Homo sapiens: one gene and its partners. The protein of the gene in region 3 purifies or fractionates together with the protein of the main gene of each other region. This does not show direct contact. Each region holds a gene or a part of one and is shown on either strand. Other genes may lie near its edges. The genes, in order: THADA, USP8, TRIM40, RAP1B, PLOD1, DEDD2 and CUX1.

Region 1 (3,500 bases), on a different chromosome or scaffold from region 3:
ATGAATACACTTAACAATAGCGAACTATGTACACTTAAAAATGGTTAAGACTCAAACATCATATGTTCTCACTCATAAGTGGAAGCTTATCTATGAGGATGCAAAGGCATAAGAATGATACAATGGCCTTTGGAGACTCAGGGGAAAGGGTGGGAAGGGGGTGAGAAATAAAAGACTACAAATTGTTGGGTACAGTATACACTGCTCAGGTGATGTGTGCACCAAAATCTCAGAAACCACCACTTATTCATGTAACCAAGTACCACCTGTTGCCCAAAAACCTATCGAAATGAAAATTAAAATTTAAAAAAAAAGAATTCATAAAAAAAAAAGGTTAAGACTGAGTTTTTATGTTATATGTCTTTTACTACAATTAGGATTTTATGACATGGAAATATCTCTAAGACATTCTTTAGTGAAAAAACAAGCTACAGAGCATTCTGTAGAGTATAATCTCGTTTACAGATATATATAAAAAAAGTAGAATGTAACACACATATGCTGACCTCAAAGAGAAGGTCTAGAAAGATAAATACCAAAACGGTAAGTGACAATCTTTACTAAGAAAAGTAAGATAAGCCCTAAACAATGAAATGGAAGCCTTAGTTTTTATTTTGTATAGTTCTATATCATTTGAAATTTTTATACCAAGCCTATATTCCTGTGTTATCTGTGTAAATATATATTTAAACCAAGAACAGATAGGACAAAAAGAGGAAAAAACAGCAAGATGACATTTAAACATAACCAATAAATGTAAATGGATTGAGGCAGGAGTAAGCAAACTACAGCCCACAGCCTGTTTATTAAGCATGTGACCTAAGAAGGCTTTTTATACTTTTAAAAAGTTGTAACTAGGCTGGGCGCAGTGGCTCACACCTGTAATCCCATCACTTTGGGAGGCTGAGAAGGCGGATCACAAGGTCAGGAGATCAAGACCATCCTGGCTATCATGGTGAAACCACATCTCTACTAAAAACACAAAAAATTAGCCGGGTGTGGTGGCTGAGGCAGGAGAATGGCGTGAACCCGGGAGGCAGAGCTGACAGTGAGCCAAGATCGCACCACTGCACTCCAGCCTGGGCGACAGAGCTAGACTCCGTCTCAAAAAAAAAAAAAAAAAAAAAATAGTTGTAACTAATCAATGAAACAGAGAACAAACCATATGAATGAACTTTTTGTGATCTGTATCAGTTCAGTTTTATCAAACCAAGGAAGGAACTTCAGTTACTTTTGGTCAAATTCAACATTTATAACACCCAACTTCCCTTCCTTTTTTTCTTACCTTGCCAATACTTTCTTCAAGGGATTCTTTAGACTCAAAGAAAGATAAATGCCTGCTAAGATATCCAAACAACTTTGAATAGTGGGATCACACATGCCATTTTTATCTGCTTTCTCCAGCAGAGGCACAATCTATAATACAAAACATTGAAGTAATTTTTATAATATCAAATATAGCAAAGTAACATGGTTACAGATACTCTTTGAAGTCTCAATTGCTGGGTACAGTGGCTCACCCCTGTAATCCCAACACTTTGGGAGGCTGAGGTGGGCAGATCGCTTGAGCCCAGGAGAGTTCGAGACAAGCTCGGGCAACATGGTGAAACCCTGTCTCTACAAAAAAATACAAAAATTAGCCAGGCATGGTGGCACATGCCTGTAGTCCCAGCTACTCAGGGGGCTGAGGCAGGAGGATTGCTTGAGCCCAGGAGGTTGAGGCTGTGGTTGAGCCAAGATCACACCAGTGCACTCCAGCCTGGGTAAGAGAGTGAGACCCTATCTCAAAAAAATAAATAAAACAAAGTGTCAATTACGTGAAATGTTTTCCATACTCCACTGTCAAGGATACTGATTTAAACACCTATTTCACTATTTATTAACTTTTTAAACTCATGTCCCCACCTCCCTCTTTACCCTCCAGACCCACCTCCACAGAGAATCACAGACCTGTTAATGGCTTACAGTAAAGAACAGCTGTAGCACTATTAAAAAACCAGTAATACATTTACTTGCTTTCCAAAAAAAAAAACTATGTGTGCTCAAATGGTAAATCCTAATACTGAAATACTAATAAGTATAATCTTTATATTTTAAATTAACTTTTAAATGTGTCTGCTAAAAAGTTTTGAAGATTCATATATTTTAAAATTTATCTCCACAAAAGAGGTATGCACATTATCTTCTACCTTATCTGTTTACAGTTCAATTATGATAGAAGTCTGAATATGGCTTCTATTGCTGCTTTGAATACAAGGATATTATACAATAAACAGAAAAAAAAAAATACTTATTTGCTAATGATAAACTGATATGCAATAATTAGGGACCAAAAACTGTCAGTGATTTTTTTTAAATCCTTAATAGCATGATACTCTTAAAGATGCATCCATGAATATCAATTCAGACTTACCTGTTTAATATAATGGATTTGTGACACTCCATCCGTGAGTTGCACACAATGTAACAGCAAAGAAGCTAGATTTTTCCCTTCCACATCAGCAAAAGCTATATAACATATACAAAAAAAAATTTTCAATGATTTAACAGTGAGTTAACTTTGCCTTTGTTGTGCATTCTACAAAATTTTTTAATTATAAACCATAGCAATAGGTGGAACATAGTCTGAAGACAGAATTTTAAGAAAATTGTTTTACATCCAAAACATAAGGAAAAATATAAAGAATTTGAATATTATATGCTAGGGGTCCCAGTCATTAAAATACTCTGCTTGCAAACTAGAAAAAAATATAATAAGGGAAACCAGAAGTCACCTACATTTCAAAGTTTCAAGGTCCTGATGGCAAATGGTCAGCGCAGCAACTTGCATTTCTTTCTTCTTCTTTACACCCATTTTAAATAGAATTAATAGTAGTCACTGCAAGAAAGAAGACTTTAAGGCATTAATGTAAGGTTTCTCAACCTCAGCACTATGATTTTTGGCTGGGTTCATTCTTTGTTGAACAGTATCATCCTATGCATTATGTTTCATGCATCCCCATCTCTACCCACTAGATGCCAGTGGCACCCTCCTCCCTCCCAAGTTCTGACAACCAAAATATGTCTCCAAACACTGTGAAGTGTCCCCTGGGGAGCAAAACTGCTCCAGAATGAGAATCACTGTCTAAGAATTTCTGATTTGAAGAAGAAAAATGTTTTAAGCTGAAGCTTATTACTGACTGAAGTTATTTTACCTACTATGACTCAGTCTTTGTATTTTAAAATACAGCAAACTTTCCTTTTAGTGAACATACACACAAAAAAACTGGGATAGTTTTTCCAAAGATAAAATACTTCAAACTAACCTCAGTGACTCATTAGACTAAGAGGAGGTACTACCGTGTCCTGATTTCTGCAAAAATGAAAAAAAATATTTTTTTAATGCTATTCTCTTGAGTTTGCTTTTATCGATACTTAACAAATCAACGGGTTCATAACAGGCTAAACAACCCAACTCAGAGACTACACAACTACACACTAATAGTACCATGCCATCTGGA
Region 2 (3,500 bases), on a different chromosome or scaffold from region 3:
TGCCTATAATCCCAGCTACTCAGGAGGCTGAGGTGGGAGGATTGCTTGAACCCAGGAAGTCGAGGCTGCAGTGAGCTGTGATCACGCCACTGCACTCCAGCCTGGGTGAGAGAGTGAGACCGTTTTCAAAAAAAAAAGAAAAGAAAAAGAAAACGAGGTTAGTGTAGAAAAAATAATTTTTTTCCTGTTCACTTCTCTTTCTGCCTCTTAAAAAAAATCCTTTGTCTTTTTTTTTGCATGTATTTGAGAATAAAGTAGGAAGAACCACTATGGGGATGAGGTTAACAATAAGAGGTGGAACAGAAACAAAAATAAATGTTGTTTCCATTTACATTTTGGTGGCTTGATCTATTTTTCCCTAATTTTAAAAGTATAGTTATGATCATGTTACTCTCAAGTTTAAAATTCTTTAATGGTTCCTTGTGCCTACAGGACAAAATTCAAATTTGATCCAAGTCTCTCTTGATGACTCTTGTCCATCCTTCTAATCTTATCTACTATCATAACTTCCTCTCTCCAACAGAGACTAGCGCCCACATATGCCAAAACTGTTCACTGGCCCCAGAGCATGCCCTATGCCTTTGGTCATAGAATTTTCTACTTGTTTCTTCTATCCTCCAATCCTACTCTTAAAGCCCAGATAAAATACTGTCTCCTCCATGAAGACGTCCTTGATCTTCTCAGCTAGAATATTCTCCTTGCTCTGTGCTCCAGTGCCTTGTAGAGCAATTATGATATTCTGCCTTATGCTGTGGCTGATTTTATACAGATCTCTCCTTCCAAACATCAGAAGAACCCATCTCTTGTATATACAAACTTTCATGCTGTCTTATTTTTATTTTTATTTTTTTTTGAGACAGAGTCTCACTCTCACCCAGGCTGGAGTGCAGTGGCCTGATCTCGGCTCACTACAACTCTGCTTCCTGGGTTCATGTGATTCTCCTGCCTCAGCCTCCTGAGTAGCTGGGACTGCAGGCACGCACCACCACGCCTGGCTAATTTTGGTATTTTCAGTAGAGATGGGGTTTCACCATGTTGACCAGGCTGGTCTGGAACTCCTGACCTCAGGTGACCCACCTGCCTCCGCCTCCTAAAGTGTTGGGATTACAGGCACGAGCCATGGCACCCAGCCCTCATGCTGTTTTTTATATAGAAGATCTTCAAAATATGTCTGAAAATTGTACGTATCTCATAAAGTTATGTTGGGACACAAAAGGATTAGCGTTTAAATAGATTAAGTTGAAAGGAAATGCAATAACATAGAGAAGCTCTTTTTAGACTTTCCTAAATTCACCCTTTAAGAAAAGTTGTTTAATCACATCTATTTAGTCTGCAATTTATTCTGCAATACTAAAAGACCTTAAAAAAATGAAGAAATGAACCACTTCAGTTTATAACAAAAAATTACCAGATTTTCTATTCAATACCTGCTCCACAAATCAAACGTCATCCACTTTAAATGTGAAATACTGTTTTAAATATATCTGGGGAAAAAATTAAAAATGAATGCTAAAAAATGTTATTGGGAAATGCATGGAGGGGGAACATTAGTTAACCTTTCTTTAAATAAAGCCAAATGAAGGATATAAAAACTAAAATTTTTTTATTTGTAATGTCTTGGTTATTTAAAAACTTTTACATGATTATTGTTAAACATGCCTGTTATTTGCGTGTCAAATTCTAAGGAAATGAAACTAAAGCACTGTTTTAAAACCAAAATACTGACATCACATACCTATCATATGTAAGCCAAGCTATTTATGAAAATAATATGGGTCAAATTATAATACAAAAAATCCCAAAAGGGCTATTCTAATTCACTGTGATAATGCAATCTTTCATTGGCATTGTTTGTAGCAAATGGATCGCCAACTGGCTTGGAAACCCCTTAATTATCTACTCTAATATAGGCGTGGCGGTAATGCTGAATTATGATGAAAAATTTTTAAACAAAAAATTTATCAAAACATACAGACTGTTCTCATCGATACTTTTTTCTAAGATGTTAAAGGTTATATATTAAACTTCGTTTCTATACTATGTATTTAATTCTTTTTTTTTTTTTTGAGACAGAGTCTTGCTGTCACCCAGGCTGGGGTGCAGTGGTGCAATCTCGACTCACTGCAACCTCCGCTTCCTGGGTTCAGACAATTCTCATGCCTCAGCCTCCCAAACAGCTGGATTTATAGGCACCCACCACCATGCCCAGCTAATTTTTGTATTATTAGTAGAGAGGGGGGTTTCACCATGTTGGCCAGGTTGGTCTCAAACTCCTGACCTCAGGTGATCTGCCCCTCTCAGCCTCCCAAAGTGCTGGGATTACAGGCGTGAGGCACTGTGCCCAGCTATACTATATATTTAATATTAAAACAAAAGCGAGAATAATGTTAAAATCAAGAACATACCTGTGGAACATTCTTTATACTAGGCACTGGCTGAATTATGGGTGAAACATCAGATTTAGAAGCAGCAACTGGTTCAACTGGAGTTGATATATTCAGTGGTCCCATTCTCTCATTTTGACCACTTATCAATTCTATATTTTCATCTACTTCTATAGATGCAGGTGGCGTCTGGGCAGCAGGTTTAGAAGGAATTGATTCTTCCAATGAGGGATAAGTAAAATCCACTAAAATTCCAAAAATAAAAATGTTTTTTAGAATAGCAAACCCCATACACAGTACTTACATTTCTCATGCGTGTTAATGCAGTAATTAAATGTAAACTAAGTGAAAAAACAATTACAACAGTCTTAAAGAAAATGTGAACTTCCAGGCTTATATTTTTATGCCTGAAAACAAACTGCTCTCTAATAGGACAAATACACACACAACCAAGAATGTTACCGGGAAAACAATTTTAAACCATATTTTACCAAAGCAATTTTAAACAAAAATTTTCACATACATACATGAGATAGACACCTCTTCATTCTGGCGTCGTGGGGGTGGAGTGACCTTAGCATTTGTTGTATACTGGGGATAACAAAGGAGCCAGTTTTCATAGCCTCCCTCTAAAACCAAAGGCTCATTGCGCAGGACAGTTTTACTTTCCCACTATAAATAAGGAAATCATATTTTAAATAGGGCAGCAATCTTTCAACAGCTAAAAACACAACAAATCTAAATTTTAAAGTTGTTCCCTTAAGGACAAAATTTATCTTCTAAATAATGACAAAATGAGAACTGAATTCAAAATTCAACATTAAATGAAATGGTTATATAGGTGAGGTTTTAAAAACCATACAAATAATCAATGATCTTAGAAGAAAAATTAGAAAATAAATTACTAAATATAAAACAAAAATGACCCATAACCTCACCACCCCAATACCACTTTACATTCTGGAGTTTACTCTTATAGAGAGTTTTCAATAAAACCTTTATGATGTTGCTTTTCTATGAACATCTTTCATCACTATAGAGCTATATCATCATTTGCAATGCTAGGTAATATTCGACTACTGGTTGACTGATTGACAAGGTCTCACTCTATCACCC
Region 3 (3,500 bases):
ACAAATTTCTGTGTATTTAAGACATGGAGATTATATTATAAAAAAGAATAGAGCCAATTTAAATGCAAATTTCTAAAAAGTTGCCCAAAAATATAATTAAGAAGAAATAACAGAATAAAAAAATGTAGGTTAAACAAACACAACTAATGGAGCTCATTATCCAAAAGATAAACTATTTTGATGCAATCATGTAGAATTTATGCCCTGATTCTAGGGGAAAATGCAGACAGCGAGTCTTCATGGATAAAAGCCTCACCACTACTAGCATTCATAATCAAGCAAAGTAAAACAACGTACATCACTGTCACACACTTACTAAACCAGCAAAATACATTAAAGTGATTGACACTGACATTGACTGGTCAGTGAGGAAACAGGTATACAAATAAGAATTTGTAGATTTTATAAATTTTTCGGTCTTTTTAGAGTACAGTCAGGGATTATATGATTCTTTTAAAAGAACAAAATTTACAATACTTAACTACAAAGTTTAATTCAAATAAATAGAGATATGGTGAAAAAATCAGTAAAAAAAAACCCTCCTTAATTTCAAAATTACGCTGTCAATATCCATGAGTACACATAAGGTCCACCATTATAATCACTTCTTCAGAAATATACTCAACTCCCTTACCCTCCCTCTCTGTGTTACTTTTCAGACAACTCCTTATCCATGGTAAAATGTACCATCACCTTCTTGTTTGCTGTCTGTCCTCAGGCAGCCTCCTGAAACATGTTAAACATTTCAGACCTCAAATTGGTGCTACATACTGTCTGCCAACCCTACATAGTTTCTCTTGTAAGCGCTCTCCCACACTGCATCACACCATCTTGTTTCTTTTCAAACCTTTCACATCCATCCTGATCCCACCCATACTGCTGATGTTCCTTCCTCAAATATTATGAGAAAATAAAAACCAGAACAAAACCTGGATTTCCAAAACTGCAAAACTATGTAGGCTTGCAGACACCTTCTCTTGTTCCCTGTTATTACTATGGAAGAAGTGTGCCTCCTCCCAACTCAGCTCTCATGCCTCTGCCACCATCTTACTGAAGTGTTAGCATTGTTCAATGCAATCTATTATAATCTCTTAAAATACCCTTCTCTCTTAGCAGCTGGGGCACCATTCCCCTTGTTTTTCTCCTGCCTTTCTGGCAACTCATCCTGTCTCCTTTGCTGGGTCCTCCTCTGCCTACATCTAAATGACGGCCTTTCCCAGAACCTTACCCCAAAACTTCTTTTTCTGTCTAGCCTCTTTTGAGGCAATTACATCAGTTTCCTTGGTTTCTTGGTTGTTTGTTTCTTTGTTTGAGACAGGGTCTTGCTCTGTCTTCCTGGCTGCAGTGCAGTGGCACAATCACAGCTCACTCCAGCCTCACTCTCTTGGGCTCAAGCAATCCTCCCACCTCAACCTTCCAAGTAGCTGGGACCACAGGCGTGAGCCACTGCACCCAGCCCCAAATTGTCACGTTCTTTTTTTTAAATCCTGTTAATTTCACTTTGTTGTTGCTGTTGTTGTTCTAGAGATAGTATCTCACTGTGTTGCCTAAGCTGGTCTTGAACTCCTGGGCTCAAGCGATCCTCCCACTTTGGCCTCCCAAAGTGCTGGGACTACAGGTGTGAGCCACCGTGCCCGCTTTTCTTGGATTTAAATATTGTCTTTGCCTGGATGGATCTTTGTTCTAGGTTCTAGGAATAAGACTCTGGAGATCTAAATTTGTGATCCAGCTGCGTATGTAAGATCCTATTTTGATGTGTCTCAACTTGGACTCAACTTGTCTTAAATGAAACTCTTGGTGTTGCATTCAAACCTGTTCTACCAAGTTATTATCTTTCACATCATCTATTCAGTTTCTCAAACCAGAAACTCATGAAGTCATCTTTGACCTTCCTCCTTCCTTCAACCCACTTTTTAAAATATATATACTTTAAGTTCTGGGGCACATGGACAGAACATGCAGGTTTGTTACATAGGTATACACGTGCCATGGTGGTTTGCTGCACCCATCAAACCGTCATCCACGTTAGGTATTTCTCCTAATGCTATCCCTCCCCTACCCCCCATCCCCTCACAGGCCCTGGTGTGTGATATTCCCCTCCCTGTGTCCACGTGTTCTCATTGTTCAACTCTCACTTACGAGTGAGAACATGTGGTGTTTGGTTTTCTGATCTTGTGTTAGTTTGCTGAGAATGATGGTTTCCATCTTCATCCACGTCCCTGTAAAGGACGTGAACTCATCTGTTTTTATGGCTGCATAGTATTCCATGGTGTATATGTGCCATATTTTCTTTATCCAGTCTATCGTTGATGGGCATTTGGGTTGGTTCCAAGTCTTTGCTATTGTGAACCATGCCACAATAAACATACGTGTGCATGTGTCTTTATAGTAGAATGATTTATAATCCTTTGGGTATATACCCAGTAATGGGATTGCTGGGTCAAATGGTATTTCTGGTTTTAGATCCTTGAGGAATCACCACACTGTCTTCCACAATGGTTGAACTAATTTACACTCCCACCAACAGTGTAAAAGCGTTCCTATTTCTCCACTTCGTCTCCAGAATCTGTTGTTTACTGACTTTTTAATGATTGCCATTCTAACTGGCAGAGATGGTATCTCATTGTGGTTTTGATTTGCATTTCTCTAAAGACCAGTGATGATGAGCATTTTTTCATATGTCTGTTGGTTGCATAAATGTCTTCTTTTGAGAAGCGTCTGTTCATATCCTTTGCCCACTTTTTGATGGGGTTGTTTTTTTCTTACAAAGAACCCACTTCTAATCTCTCAGTAAGTCCTGTCGATTCAAACTCTAATGATAAATTCTTCAAATATAACAAGACTTCTCAGGTGTGGGCATCTGTATGCACTCCCTACCCCCTGTCTTTGCAGGTTGATTTCTCTTCTGCCAGCCCTCAGCTTCAAGGTCACTTCCTCTATGAGGCCCTCACTGACCAAATGGACATGGGCCACCCATTACTGTTCATCCCAGACCCTTGTTTATTTTCTTCCTAACTAATAAAAAGTTACAGTTCTTTTGGGAGGCCAGCGCAGATGGATCATGAGGTCAGGAGTTCAAGACCAGCCTGGCCAAGATGGTGAAACCCTGTTTCTACTAAAAATACAAAAATTAGCTAGGCCTGGTGGTGGGTGCCTGTAATCCCAGCTACTCGGGAGGCTGAGGCAAAGAATTGCTTGAACCTGGGAGACGGAGGTTGCAGTGAGCCGAGATCATGCCACTGCTCTCCAGCTTGGGTGACAGAATGAGACTCCATCTCAAAAAAAAAAAAAAAAAAAAAAGAAAAAAAAGTTACAGTTCTTTGATTACTTATTTGTGTCTCCCTTACTACACTGCAAACTCCTGGCAGAAGGAATGGCATCTGTCTTCATTGATTCCTAGCACATGCTGCAGTTTCTCACACACAGCAGGAACTTACTAAGTTTTTACTTAATGAACAAGTGTCATCGTTATTTATTTGTTTTAGCTTTCTTGTCATTAT
Region 4 (3,500 bases), on a different chromosome or scaffold from region 3:
ATAGTAGCTTTCATCCGCCTCTTAAAGGGTACCACCACAGGAAAGTCCATTTAAGATGTTGGTAGGTTTAACAAAGTTGGAATGCTGGCACTGTTGAATTGGGCAACAGTTCTTCAGACCTGTCAAAAGGAAAAAAATTAATTAAAAACATGGGCTAGAAAAAGTAAAGACCCAAAAGCAAACAGTTAAGAAAACAGTCTTAAAAGTGTTAGAAATGAATATAATCTAGGCTCTTGTTCTAGGCATTACATTAGTGGCAACATACCACAATTCACGGCAGACCTTTTCATTCCAAAAAGATGAAGTCTATTCTGCTGCCCTCTTGAAAGTCAGTTAAATGAAAATCTTAGGAACAGAAAGGGAAAGTACCTTTGTGCAAATTTTTGTGCATTACCTTCCAAGGATTAAAAAGGAAAAAAATCACATTAAAATTGTTAGTCAAGTCAACCTTATTAGAATTAGGATTGAAAAGTCAGATAGCAATATTAACAAACTGGGTGATCCTGTGTTTACACAATCGTAATGTACTCCTAGAATTAGATCATAAGTATAGAATGCACATCTAACCAAGGTTTCTAGTATCAGATAATCAAGTTCTTCCTCACTCTTTCAATGAAAGTGGCTAAAAAGCTCGTTCAGAGCAGACAAATAGAATTTATTTCATGATGGTGTTTTACAGATTTACAATCACGTTATATAATTTCTAATTCCATATTTAAACATTCTATTAAGACTGATGTCAGAAAAAGGTGGTATTACACTAAAATCACATGTAATTAAAGATTTTAAAAAGTAAACTTAGAATTGTTAAATATGTACTTTGAATAGTTTTCTGCATACATGCCTCGGCTAAAAAAATGTTCCCTATTATATTTTTCTGGTGATCAGACTTGTTACAAGCTCCAGAAGAGTTGTTAATACATATGTGGCTGTTGAAATAATTTTCACAAATGCCTAGAACTTTAGGTCCTCATTCTGAGTCTGAATGAGGTTTGCAATCAAGTTTTCTAAATCCTGGCAGACTGTTGCAAATTAAAAAGGACAGATGGAAGTGTGTGAGCTCAAGCACATGTGTGCTGCTAAGAATGGGCATGTGGTCAGGAATTATAGGATATTAGAATGAGAGGATATACCACTAAACAGAAAGCCCTAGATGGAAGGCAGGAATAAAAACTCTGAAAAGATGCAGAATCAAAGTGCTATGGCAGCACTGAGTCAATTAACATAGGAAGAAATAAGAGTCAGGAATGTCAAAGGTTCTTAAGAATAAATTAACAGTTTAACAATAAACAGTTTAATGACAGCTGAAGAGGAAACCATTATCATTGGCAAACAGCAGCAGCTAATAGTTGAGTGTTAACTATGTGCCAGGTACCGATGCAAGATCTGTGCAGCAAACCCCATGGTACACCTTTACCTATGTAACAAACCTGCACATCCTGCACATGTATCCTGGAACTTAAAAGTTGAAGGAAAAAAAAAAAAGTGGCACATGATGAACATGTCAGGGGTGTGTGTGTGTGTGTGACTGGCACATGATGAACATGTCAGGGGTGTGTGTGTGTGTGTGTGTTTTAAATTAGGGACGGTTGGCTGGGAGCGGTGGCTCACGCGCACGCGCGCACGTGTGTGTGTGTGTGTGTGTGTGTGTGTGTGTGTGTGTGTGTGTGTGTTTTAAATTAGGGACGGGGTTGGCTGGGAGTGGTGGCTCACGCCTGTAATCTCAGCACTTTGGGAGGCCGAGGTGGGCAGATCACGAGGTCAAGAGATTGAGACCATCCTGGCCAACAATGGTGAAACACCATCTCTACTAAAAATACAAAAAAACTAGCCGGGCGTGGTGGCACGTGCCTGTAATCCCAGCTACTCGGGAGGCTGAGGCAGAAGCATTGCTTGAACCTGGGAGGCGGAGGTTGCAGGGAGCTGATATTGCGCCACTGCACTCCAGCCTGGGTGACAGAGTGAAACTCCATCTCAAAAAAAGAATACTTATGTGAAATACTTTACTCATGATGATAAGTAAATAATTAATAAGATAGCATACTAACTCATGGATATCTTATAAAAATAAACCATTTATTTTTCAGAACCAACAAAAAGAAGTCTATACTTGCTTTCATGACAGAGTGCCCTTAATAAGGTTGAGTGATTAAAAGTTAGAGGAAAGATAAGTGAACATACCTGGCTCAGAGCTACAATGCATTTAGTATATTAAAGCAGCTGACATGATGACTTTTTGCGAGCCTTCCCAGGCACTGGAGTTTTTCTGTTAATTTGCCGCACTAGGTCATAAAAGATCTGCAAATACAATAATTTGTTTTAATTTACAGGAGGAACACCTATCCCCCCCAATGAAAAAAGTAAATTGAAAAAACAGAAATTTCCATGGATATAAATTAATGCCCAGAATTGTTCAGCTAAGGAATGAGAATAAAATCAGGTGTTATAACTGCCAAGCTCAAATTTTTGGGGAGTGTTAATATTGTGCTCCTTAAAATACTTAGTTGAAGGAGCTGCAGAGATCTTAACTTAGTTCAATTAGAACATTTACCATCACACAAAGAAAAAATCCTTTTAAAAACTGTAAGTTTTTGCTCTACAACATGACTTGGAGCCTTTCAAGAACCATGCATACTTTTCGGAATTTTACTCTATTTTTCATATAACATCCTTCATATACCTGAAGTCTTAATCTGTCTTCCCTATCCATGTATTTTCTGTCCAGTCTTCCTTTTTCATGGTAAATATCAATGTACAAGTATTTAATAGAGACTGAAATAGTATTGTTTATTTACTACATAGATACATTTAACATGAGGGTTTTTTTTTTTTGCCTGTAACATCAACATATTACCCTGAGTACATATTAACTTGGGGTTAAGACATTTTCCATTCATCTTCAATGTTGTACTTCAAATGAAGACCCATTTTAAGTATATTTGACCATACCTCATTAACATTTATTTTTGATTTTGCAGAAGATTCTAAGAATGCACAGTTGTTCCATTGTCTTGCTAGATTTTGACCTTGTTCCTTCCCTACAACTCTTTCATCTTCCAAGTCACACTTATTACCAACAAGAATCATTGGAACCTAAAAATACATTTGTGAGAGTAAAAATAAATAAGTAAATATGCTATATGAATTCAAATCAAAAGAATTCTAAGAGTCAAATCTAAGAATTACTTTTCATATGCCACAAAAAATATTAAATAATGTATAATAAAATTTACAGCCTTAACAATTTAATCTGTAACATAAACATAAGTATTAACTTTGATGTCAATTATCTCCACTGCCTTCTCTTTTCATGGAGATGCAAACGATAACTCCAAAGGGAAGAAAAGAGAGAAAGAAAACTCTCATATGTTAAGTAAAATGAACACAACCTAGTCAATGTAGACATAAATAAGACACTTTTACATAAACTTTTGAGAAAACAAGCTATGATCCTGTTATGAGAGATGGGGGGAAAAAACCTTAAAATTTTATCATAATGG
Region 5 (3,321 bases), on a different chromosome or scaffold from region 3:
TTGCAGGCACTCGAGCATAGAGCCCCATGTAGACCTGGCCCCTGTAAGCTGACCTGCAGCAGGCCAGACCAGGCCCCATGTGTGCACCCTCCTCTCCTGGCCTTTGTGTCCTCCTTAACTAACACGGGCTCTCTTGTCCCCCTGCCTTGGTACAGGCCCAGTTTGACCTGGCCTTTGTCGTCCGCTACAAGCCTGATGAGCAGCCCTCACTGATGCCACACCATGATGCCTCCACCTTCACCATCAACATCGCCCTGAACCGAGTCGGGGTGGATTACGAGGTGAGCAGGAGCCAGCCGGGGTCAAGGGGCCGGCAATGGGGATGAGGAGGGCTAGCTGAGGAGAGGCTTCAGGGTGGTTGAGGCAGAGGGGCCCCAGGTAACCAGTGCCAGAGAACCAGAAAAAAAAGGATGTGGGTCTGTGGGAGGGCTTCCTGGAAGGGTTCACAGTCTAGCAGGAGGAGGGGCCAGGCTCTTAAGCTACTATTTTAAGAGATTTTTGGGCTCGGCATGGTGGCTGATGCCTGCAATCCCAGCAGTTTGGGAGGCCAAGGCAGGCAGATCACTTGGGGCCAGGAGTTTGAGACCAGCCTGGCCAACATGGCGAAACCCCATTTCCACTAAAAATAGAAAAATTAGCTGGGCGTGGTAGCACACACCTGTAATCTTAGCTACCCAGAAGGCTGAGGCATGAGAATCTCTTGAACCCAAGAGGTGGAGGTTGCAGTGAGCTGAGATCATGCCACTGCACTCCAGCCTGGGCAACAGAGCGAGACTCTGTCTCCAAAAAAAACAAAAAGAGGTTTTTTGAACTTAGCCCTGGGCTGGGTGCTGTGGAGAACACTCATAAAAACAGCTATAATCCTTTTTTTTTTCTTTTTCGAGACAGGGTCTTGCTCTGTCACCCAGGCTGGAGTGTAGTGGCATGATCACAGTTCACTGCAGCCTCAACCTCCTGGGCCCAAGCAATCCTCCCACCTCAGCCCCCCCAAGTAGTTGGGACCACAGGCGTGTGCCACCATGGCCAGCTAATTTTTTTTCTTGCTTTTAGAGATGGGGTTTCACTATGTTGCCCAGGCTGGAGCTATAATTTTTTGAGAGCTTACAACAAACATATCAGGCATCCCTAATCCAAGGATTCTCAACCAGGAGCAACTGTGGCCTGCAAGGGACATTGGCAGTACCTGGAGACATAATTGGTTTTTACAACTATGAGGGGCTACTGGCATCTAGTGGGTAGAAGTCAGAGATGCCCGGGACAGCCTTCCACAGCAAAGTGTCTATAGTGGTGAGGTTGGGAAGCTTGATCCTCAGCTCTCAATTGTAACATCTCATTTAATTCTCACTATCCTGTTCTGTTTAACCCTCATTTTACAGAAGGGGAAACTGAAGCTCAGGTTGGTCACAGTTAGTAAAGAGTGGAGGTGATGTCTGCCCAGGGCTGCCTGACTCCAAGGACAGAGCTCTTGATCACTTACTCTTTGGGTTTTTTTTTTTTTGAGACAGTCTCATTCTGTTGCCCAGGCTGGAGTACAGTGGCGCGATCTCGGCTCACTGCCTCCTGGGTTCAAGTGATTCTGTCTCAGCTTCCCGAATAGCTGGGATTACAGGCGTGCGCTGCTACACCCAGCTGGTTTTTGTATTTTTAGTAGAGATGGGGTCTCACCATGTTGGCCATGCTGGTCTTGAACTCCTGACCTCAGGTGGTCCACCCGCCTTGGCCTGCCAAAGTGCTGGGATTACAGGCGTGAGCCACCACTCCTGGCCACTACTCTTCATTTAGTGTCTTCCTTAGCAGCGCTTGTGGCTGTCACTCCAGAAGGCATCCCCAGGCAGGCAGTGCTGAGGGCCACTTGGCCATGACAGGAGATCATGACGGGAGAACAGACGGGCAGGGGGGCGGTGGGGAAAGGCCACTGATGCTTTCTGTCTCCCAGGGCGGGGGCTGTCGGTTCCTGCGCTACAACTGTTCCATCCGAGCCCCAAGGAAGGGCTGGACCCTCATGCACCCTGGACGACTCACGCATTACCATGAGGGGCTCCCCACCACCAGGGGCACCCGCTACATCGCAGTCTCCTTCGTCGATCCCTAATTGGCCAGGCCTGACCCTCTTGGACCTTTCTTCTTTGCCGACAACCACTGCCCAGCAGCCTCTGGGACCTCGGGGTCCCAGGGAACCCAGTCCAGCCTCCTGGCTGTTGACTTCCCATTGCTCTTGGAGCCACCAATCAAAGAGATTCAAAGAGATTCCTGCAGGCCAGAGGCGGAACACACCTTTATGGCTGGGGCTCTCCGTGGTGTTCTGGACCCAGCCCCTGGAGACACCATTCACTTTTACTGCTTTGTAGTGACTCGTGCTCTCCAACCTGTCTTCCTGAAAAACCAAGGCCCCCTTCCCCCACCTCTTCCATGGGGTGAGACTTGAGCAGAACAGGGGCTTCCCCAAGTTGCCCAGAAAGACTGTCTGGGTGAGAAGCCATGGCCAGAGCTTCTCCCAGGCACAGGTGTTGCACCAGGGACTTCTGCTTCAAGTTTTGGGGTAAAGACACCTGGATCAGACTCCAAGGGCTGCCCTGAGTCTGGGACTTCTGCCTCCATGGCTGGTCATGAGAGCAAACCGTAGTCCCCTGGAGACAGCGACTCCAGAGAACCTCTTGGGAGACAGAAGAGGCATCTGTGCACAGCTCGATCTTCTACTTGCCTGTGGGGAGGGGAGTGACAGGTCCACACACCACACTGGGTCACCCTGTCCTGGATGCCTCTGAAGAGAGGGACAGACCGTCAGAAACTGGAGAGTTTCTATTAAAGGTCATTTAAACCACTGAAGGGAAGATGCTCAGGGCGAGTGGGTGTGTGTGTGTCTTGGTGTGAGTGTCTGCAGGGAGAGAGGTTTTAAGAGCCCTCTTTTTTTTTTTTTTTCTTTTTTTGAGACAGAGTCTCACTCTGTCTTCCAGGCTGGAGTGCAATGACGCTATCCCCGCTTTCTGCAACCCCCGCCTCCTGGGTTCAAGTAATTCTCCTGCCTCAGCCTTCCGAGCAGCTGGGGCTACAGGCACCCATCACCACGCCTGGCTAATTTTTGTTTTTTTATTAAAGAAAGGGTTTCACCAGGTTGGTCTGGCTGGTCTTGAACTCCTGACCTCAGATGATCCACCCACCTCGGCCTCCCAAAGTGCTGGGATTACAGGCATGAGCCACCGTGCCCGGCCAAGAGCCCTCTTTTTAGAGCCTTTAAGAAAGGTCATGCTAGCCTCTCGACCCCTGAGTAGCTGGGATTATAGGTATCCATGCCTGACACATTTTTGTATTTTTTGTAGAAAC
Region 6 (2,580 bases), on a different chromosome or scaffold from region 3:
CTGGGAGGCGGAGCTTGCAGTGAGCTGAGATCATGCCACTGCACTCCAGCCTGGGCAACAGAGCAAGACTCCGTCTCAAAAAAAAAAAAAAAAAAAAATTCCTGGGAGCCCCCAAGGACATACAGGAGCAAAGCATGTGTGAACATGGTTGGAAGGGTTTCTGACTCCGAGGCAGTATTCTATTTCTTCCTTTGACAGAGGACAAGACTGACACCCAGAGGGGAGGACAAGCGTGTGGTTATCAGCTGGCATATGGTCCAGCATCCTGCCCACACTCCAGTCCCTAACGCTGGGCCAGGAACACTCCTCCTCCCAGCCCACTGAGGTCCAAAAGCTGGGCATGGTGACGGGCACCTGTAGTCCCAGCTACTTGGGAGGCTGAGGCAGGAGGATCGCTTGAGCCCAGGAATTTGAGGCTGGCCTGGGCAACATATCAAGACCCTCAACTCTAAAAAAAAAATTTAAATTAAATAATAAATAAAGAGTCCTAGAGAGGCCGATGCCCACCTATGCCCTTTCCAGGGCAGTTTAATTGGTATCATTTGTAAAAGGTCTTTTCCATCACCCCCAAAGCCTTTGCATTCCCTTTCCAAGAAGGTGGCTGTTTACTGGTTTTGGCCCCATGTGCAACAGTAGGCCTTGGTATGATGCTGCCATAACACTCCCATGTGACACTCCAGGTGACATCCAAGTGCAAGTCTATGTTCAGCTCTGGACAGCAGGGGGGAAGGTGAGGAGAGTCAGGTCTGTAAATTGAAGCTGGGCAGGGCCCTGGCTGGCTGGAGATGTGTGGGCAAGGTGAGCAGGCCCCATGTGCACCCCAGCTCCAGTGCCCACTGATGTGGCTGAAGCCCAGGTTGGTTGTGGTCAAATTAGAGGTCCTGAGAGAGAAGCCCTTAGGCCAAAGAAGTGTGTGCTGGGAAGCAGGCCAGGGCAGAGGCCCAGGGAAGATCTCAGCAGGGGCAGTGTGAGCATGAGCGAGTGTGTGCACCTGTGACAGTGCAGACAGCCCAAGATCAGAGATACAATGTGCAGGGGGGCCTTTGGTGAGTGTGTAGCTGTGCCCCTCCCTTCTGAGATACAGGCCCAGCCCCCGCCTCCGGAGGCTAAGGGGGCACACCTGGGGGTAGGAGGAGTCTGGGAAGGAAACTCAGCTGGAAATGGTTTAGGCCTCAGAGCCCACATCCTGTGGGAGGGGCTGTCAAGGGGCCTGCTGTCCCGGTCCTGTCGCAGTCCTCAAAGATGCTAGAGTGACAGTCCTCTAGGGGTAGAGATGGTCGTCCTCCCAGGAGAAGGTGGCCCGGAGACTTGGAGGTGGGATCAATCCTGCCAGTCCTGGATCAGGAGGCCTCTGTCGGGCGCCGCCCCCCTTCCTCCTCCATCAGCAACAGGCGGCGCCGGCCAGCCTCATAGTCAGCCTCATCCACACTGACCAGCAGGCGAACAGCCTCCCGGCCCACAGCCTCTCGCAGGGCCTCAGTCAGGAACACGCCCCGCAGGGCCTGCAGCAGGGCGCCACTCAGGTAGTCGCCCCAGAAGGCGTCCAGATAGGAGAGCTCTGAGAACTTGATGTCACAAACCACAGAGCCCAGGTCCCTTGAGCGCAGCACTGCGGTGGCCTGCCCAAACACGTCCAGCTGCCGCGCCAGCGCCTGGGGCCGCCGGGATGCCACGCCCTGCTCCAAGGCTGGCCCATGCTCGCAGTACTCTGCTCGAACCCGGAGCCGGATGTCTGCAGGGGAAGGAGGGATTTGTCAGGGAGGGGGCCAACACTAGACACACTTATGGGGAACGCCACCCTTCCTCCCTCCAGCCTTCTCCCTCCACCCCCTTCCGGTAGCCACACCCTAGTCCTGACACAGCCTCCCCGGCTCTGTGGGGTTCCCTGACCAAGTACGTCCTCCTCTTCTCCAGCCCACCACCTCCTCACTGCTCCAACAAGCCTCCCCACCGCCAGGGGTGCTCTTTCCCTGGATCTGCACAACACTTGCTCCCTCTCTTCCTGCAGGTCTTTGCTCAAAAGCCACCTTGCCAACAAGGCCCACCTAGGCCAACCTATTTACAGCTGTAACCACCCACCCAGCCCTCTCTGCAGCATGCCAGGTCCCACACCCTGCTCCATTTTTGTCCAAGGCACTTATCACCTTCCAACCTCCTCTGTCAGTTACTATCTGCTCATTATCTGTCTCTACACTCAGCATGGAGAGACAGATGACAGCAAGGAAGGGGTTTTTGTCTGTTTTGTTCACTTGTGTAACTGTGGCACATAGTAGGTGTTCAATATGTATTTGTGAAGAACTAATGCATGAACTAATGGACTTGCCTTAAGGCAACCAGCCTCACACCCTGCCCCCAAACAATGAGATTCACATGGTGCCAACCACATCCCCATCCCTCCCATCCACCTGAGCCAGCACTGCGGATGCGCAGGGTCCTGACCAGGCCCGGGAGGCTTGCGGCTGGACCTGTGCTGGCTCTACTGGGAGTCAGGTACTCTCTTGCCACAGAGCTGCTAAGATGATGGGTTGGAAGCCCAGAGCTGCTGGGAGCCACTGTGCCAAGAGGAGAGAAGGAAGCCTA
Region 7 (3,500 bases), on a different chromosome or scaffold from region 3:
CGCAGAGGCCGTGGCTCTGCTGCAAAAGGAGATGGGGGAAATCTAAGTAGCGACCTACGGCATTGAGGCCAGGGAGGTCCATGGGAGGGAGGACTGCCTTGAAGGAGGATCACCCGCCAGCCCCCAGAACAAAGCTCGCATTAATCATCCAAAGACATTCAATTTCGGTTAACATCCTCATAAAACACTGCATTTTCTTGGTGCAAATTGATGCTGTTCAAAACATCTCCCTGCTCTGTTTGAGTCTAAATTTCAGGGTGTTTCAAACATGTCTGATGAAATGACCTCTCAATAGCTCTGTTGATGTGGCACATTGATCCCCTGGTCTTAAACAGAAAAGGAACTTTCTTTTTTGTTTTTTTATTTGAGGCAGGTTCTCACTCTGTTGCCCAGACTGGAGTGCAGTGGCTCAATCATGGCTCACTGCAGCCTCCACCTCCTGGGCTCAAGCCATCCTCCTGCCTTAGCCTCTCAAGTAGCTGGGACCACAGGTACACGCCACCACGCCCAGCTAACCTTTTGATTTTTTTGTAGATCAAAAGATTACAAAATATATGTTGCCCAGGCTGGTCTTGAACTCCTGGACTCAAGCGATCCATCCACCTCAGCCTCCCAAACTGCTGGAATTATAGGCGTGAGCTACTGTGCCCGGCTGGGATTTTTTGAAATTATGAATGTGACTGACATTTTATCTTTTTACGGAGGGTGGGGTAGAAAGGGTGCTTAAATAAAACTTTTGTGTATTTTACTCAAGCCAGGCCTGTTTTACTCATAATGCTAAACAAATCACTAATGGACCGTGAACAATGTAGGGAAGGTGGCCATGGGACACGCCCTCTTCTGCGGGGTGGGAAGAGGGGAGGTGTCATCTGTGATGTGTTCTCCCTACAGAACCAGCTTTGCATGAGGATCGAGCCCAGTCAACGTTGCTGCTATGGGGCTGGAGGGGACTTAAGGGCTCCTCCCAAAAGTGAGACCAGCACCCAAGGCCAATTGGACCCGCGGCCACTAAGCATACGGAGACGCTATACATCATGTAATGCAATTCCCTCTGATACGATCTCTAGTATTGAAATACTATAGGGTTTCCTAAGTATGGAGTGCTGAGTGCGTTTCAAAGGCCAGATCTCCCAAATCTAACAGCCTTAACTCATGCCGGGCCACCCTTGAGCTCTGGACGTGGCAGAAGCAAAGAGAACTTTACCTGATGTGATGCACAAATGTTTCATCACGCACACAGACACACGCACGCATGCACACACACATGTGCAACTCTGTGACGGGCTCGCACGCTGGCGCCACCCAACGCCAGTCTCTCACCTCTTTGTCTGCCTTGGATGCTACGGAGGGCCAGGATGTTCTGCTCATCGGAGAGGAACTGTTTCATCTTGTGAAATGGCTCCTTGCCACGAACAGTCAGTTTATTCCATGGCTTGGGCCGGGCCAGAATCTCGCTCACGGACCCTTGAGACAGTCCCAACACATAATGTCCGAAAATACGTTGTCCGATATTGTGCTTAATCAGCTGCTCTTTGACCTGCCGGGCGATTTCTGCAGTGTCCATCTCCTCGCCCTCGGAGACGCTCCCAGCACTTTCTGACTGGCTGGGGGATGGGGCCATGCCATTGACATCTGGGCTTTGTTGTAATGGACTTTGGGAAGATATGGAGTTTGTGCTGTATGGACCTGTTGAAAAAATCATGCTTGTGCTTCCGGCTTCCTGCATAGCCTTGGAGTAGAAGGACTGCATTAGCTGCCGCTGGAGAAGAGAGTTTAGTGCAAATTTTCCTGTAGAAGCCAGGGGTAGGCTGGGGCTTGCCAGGGATGAGCTGAAAAAGTCTTGACTTAACCCCGCTGGTGAGAACTGGTGTGTACCATTAGTATTGGAAGCCTGCTCCCCCGGGTTGCGGGGCAACTGAGAAGGAGGGGGGGCCGGCAAAGATCCCGGGCGCCGACTTTCAGGCTGGTCTTTCCCTTTCCTCCTGGCTGACCCTACAAGGAAGGGCAAACAGAATGCATTATGGGGGATTCCAAAGGGGGAAAAAAAAACCAAGACCAAAATGCAAAAGTTTGCCCCCGCAAAAGGGAAAACAAAAAAAAGTGCAGGTTTTTTTTACAAGGGCCAATGAGGTGGGTTGGTTTGTTTTCCGATTAAATTTGTAAGTCAGCCAAACGAGGCTTCCCAAAACAAGCAACATGCATTCATGTTTGCGCCTTTCTTGTACGTTGCAGCCTGGAGAGTCCCCTTGACATAGACTCAAACTCCTAGCGTGACAAGGAGCTGGTGACACACACAGGGAAGAGTTGACGGGTCGCGGGCCTCTTACTGGGCCCGCTGGCCCCGGCCGGAGGAGCAGCAAACACTGACATTTTAGGACCAATGGATTCGCTCGCACCTCTTGCTCTGAGGCGATGCACCGTACCGAGCCCCCTCGATGTGGAGGCGCGCGCCCGTTTTGAGAATGCAATACCATTAGAGCCCGAGACACCTGTACGCGTTTTACCAGCTGCCCAAACCAGAAGCACAGTCAAGTGACGCCACCATTTGGGGGATGAGCCAAGAAAGGCTAAGGATGGGGGACGCGTCCCCAGGGGAAACCTGACCAAGGAAGAAAAACCTCTACTGGACCCGGCAGGCCCGGGGCTGTCCCTGAAAACACCACCAGAGCGAGGCTGGGTTCACACTGCCCCTGGCCTCTGTGCAGCACAACCAGACACAGATCAGAAAGGCCGACGTCCTCCGAGCTGTCCCTCCCGGGGATTCCAGCCGCACTGCCCCTAACTGACCTCCGCAGAGCCTGTGCGGCTGGCCCGTCTCGACATCCAGCTTTAAGCAGGGCGGGGAAGGGAAGGGAGGAGCGGTGAGGAGGAGGGCACCCAACACGCGTTAGTCAAAGGTTCTCGTCAACCGGCGCTTCTCTGGCCATGCATCTGTCCAGACTCACGATTCACCTTCCTCGTCCTCGACCGACCCCTGGAAGCGAACCAACCACCGCACACGCGCGAAGCCCGGCCAACCTACCGCTCAGGTCGCTGTTGGAGATGCGCAGCGCGGCGTTCTCGGACTGCAGCGAGCGGTTCTTCTCCAGCAACAGCACCTCCAGGGGCTTGGCCGCATCCTAGAAGGGGCAGAGCGGGGGTCTCACTGCGGGGCCGGCCACTCACCCGCTCCCGGGGCCACCAGGCCTGGAGCCCTGCCTCCCTCCATCTGTCCGCGTTCCCACCCAGCTCTCGATCTGATTAGGAAGTGGGCTGCGGACAGCTGATTTCCCCCCAAGTCGTTTAACACACGTGGAAAACAAGTTCCCTTTAGAAAGAATGGATTCTAGTTGAAGTCATTTTCCTTCTTAGACTTCCACAGCTCCTAAAAAAATTAATTATTCTCTCATCTGTTCTCAAACTCAAGCGACCTGAGCCCGTGCCTCATTTGGCCATAAGACTGGCTGCCAAGCCACAAACGTCTGTCCGAACGTTACTGTAAAGGGAACTTTTCTTTTTTT

The links.
Region 1: the proteins of TRIM40 (region 3) and THADA purify together in Homo sapiens (affinity purification with mass spectrometry, with the first as the bait; one large-scale study listed by BioGRID). This does not show direct contact.
Region 2: the proteins of TRIM40 (region 3) and USP8 purify together in Homo sapiens (affinity purification with mass spectrometry, with the first as the bait; one large-scale study listed by BioGRID). This does not show direct contact.
Region 4: the proteins of TRIM40 (region 3) and RAP1B purify together in Homo sapiens (affinity purification with mass spectrometry, with the first as the bait; one large-scale study listed by BioGRID). This does not show direct contact.
Region 5: the proteins of TRIM40 (region 3) and PLOD1 purify together in Homo sapiens (affinity purification with mass spectrometry, with the first as the bait; one large-scale study listed by BioGRID). This does not show direct contact.
Region 6: the proteins of TRIM40 (region 3) and DEDD2 purify together in Homo sapiens (affinity purification with mass spectrometry, with the first as the bait; one large-scale study listed by BioGRID). This does not show direct contact.
Region 7: the proteins of TRIM40 (region 3) and CUX1 purify together in Homo sapiens (affinity purification with mass spectrometry, with the first as the bait; one large-scale study listed by BioGRID). This does not show direct contact.

The regions. Positions count from the first base shown.
Region 1 is NC_000002.12:43,589,539-43,593,038, forward strand, and holds part of THADA (tRNA (32-2'-O)-methyltransferase regulator THADA), read right to left. Parts: intron 3,353-3,500; exon of another isoform or gene 3,306-3,352; intron 2,879-3,305; 5' UTR 2,855-2,878; coding exon 2,779-2,854; intron 2,509-2,778; coding exon 2,414-2,508; intron 1,417-2,413; coding exon 1,286-1,416; intron 1-1,285. UniProt on the Homo sapiens protein: Together with methyltransferase FTSJ1, methylates the 2'-O-ribose of nucleotides at position 32 of the anticodon loop of substrate tRNAs.
Region 2 is NC_000015.10:50,476,405-50,479,904, reverse strand, and holds part of USP8 (ubiquitin carboxyl-terminal hydrolase 8), read right to left. Parts: intron 3,057-3,500; coding exon 2,912-3,056; intron 2,630-2,911; coding exon 2,406-2,629; intron 1-2,405. UniProt on the Homo sapiens protein: Hydrolase that can remove conjugated ubiquitin from proteins and therefore plays an important regulatory role at the level of protein turnover by preventing degradation. Converts both 'Lys-48' an 'Lys-63'-linked ubiquitin chains.
Region 3 is NC_000006.12:30,139,140-30,142,639, reverse strand, and holds part of TRIM40 (E3 ubiquitin ligase TRIM40), read right to left. Parts: intron 1-3,500. UniProt on the Homo sapiens protein: E3 ubiquitin-protein ligase that plays a role in the limitation of the innate immune response. Mediates inhibition of the RLR signaling pathway by ubiquitinating RIGI and IFIH1 receptors, leading to their proteasomal degradation.
Region 4 is NC_000012.12:68,655,899-68,659,398, reverse strand, and holds part of RAP1B (ras-related protein Rap-1b isoform 1 precursor), read right to left. Parts: intron 3,094-3,500; coding exon 2,950-3,093; intron 2,299-2,949; coding exon 2,212-2,298; 3' UTR 2,182-2,211; intron 120-2,181; 3' UTR 1-119. UniProt on the Homo sapiens protein: GTP-binding protein that possesses intrinsic GTPase activity. Contributes to the polarizing activity of KRIT1 and CDH5 in the establishment and maintenance of correct endothelial cell polarity and vascular lumen.
Region 5 is NC_000001.11:11,972,717-11,976,037, forward strand, and holds the end of PLOD1 (procollagen-lysine,2-oxoglutarate 5-dioxygenase 1 isoform 2 precursor), read left to right. Parts: intron 1-155; coding exon 156-281; intron 282-1,936; coding exon 1,937-2,092; 3' UTR 2,093-2,821; downstream 2,822-3,321. UniProt on the Homo sapiens protein: Part of a complex composed of PLOD1, P3H3 and P3H4 that catalyzes hydroxylation of lysine residues in collagen alpha chains and is required for normal assembly and cross-linkling of collagen fibrils.
Region 6 is NC_000019.10:42,198,098-42,200,677, forward strand, and holds the end of DEDD2 (DNA-binding death effector domain-containing protein 2), read right to left. Parts: intron 1,733-2,580; coding exon 1,341-1,732; 3' UTR 501-1,340; downstream 1-500. UniProt on the Homo sapiens protein: May play a critical role in death receptor-induced apoptosis and may target CASP8 and CASP10 to the nucleus. May regulate degradation of intermediate filaments during apoptosis.
Region 7 is NC_000007.14:102,195,126-102,198,625, reverse strand, and holds part of CUX1 (Homeobox protein cut-like 1), read right to left. Parts: intron 3,120-3,500; coding exon 3,023-3,119; intron 1,993-3,022; coding exon 1,321-1,992; intron 1-1,320. UniProt on the Homo sapiens protein: May be involved in intra-Golgi retrograde transport.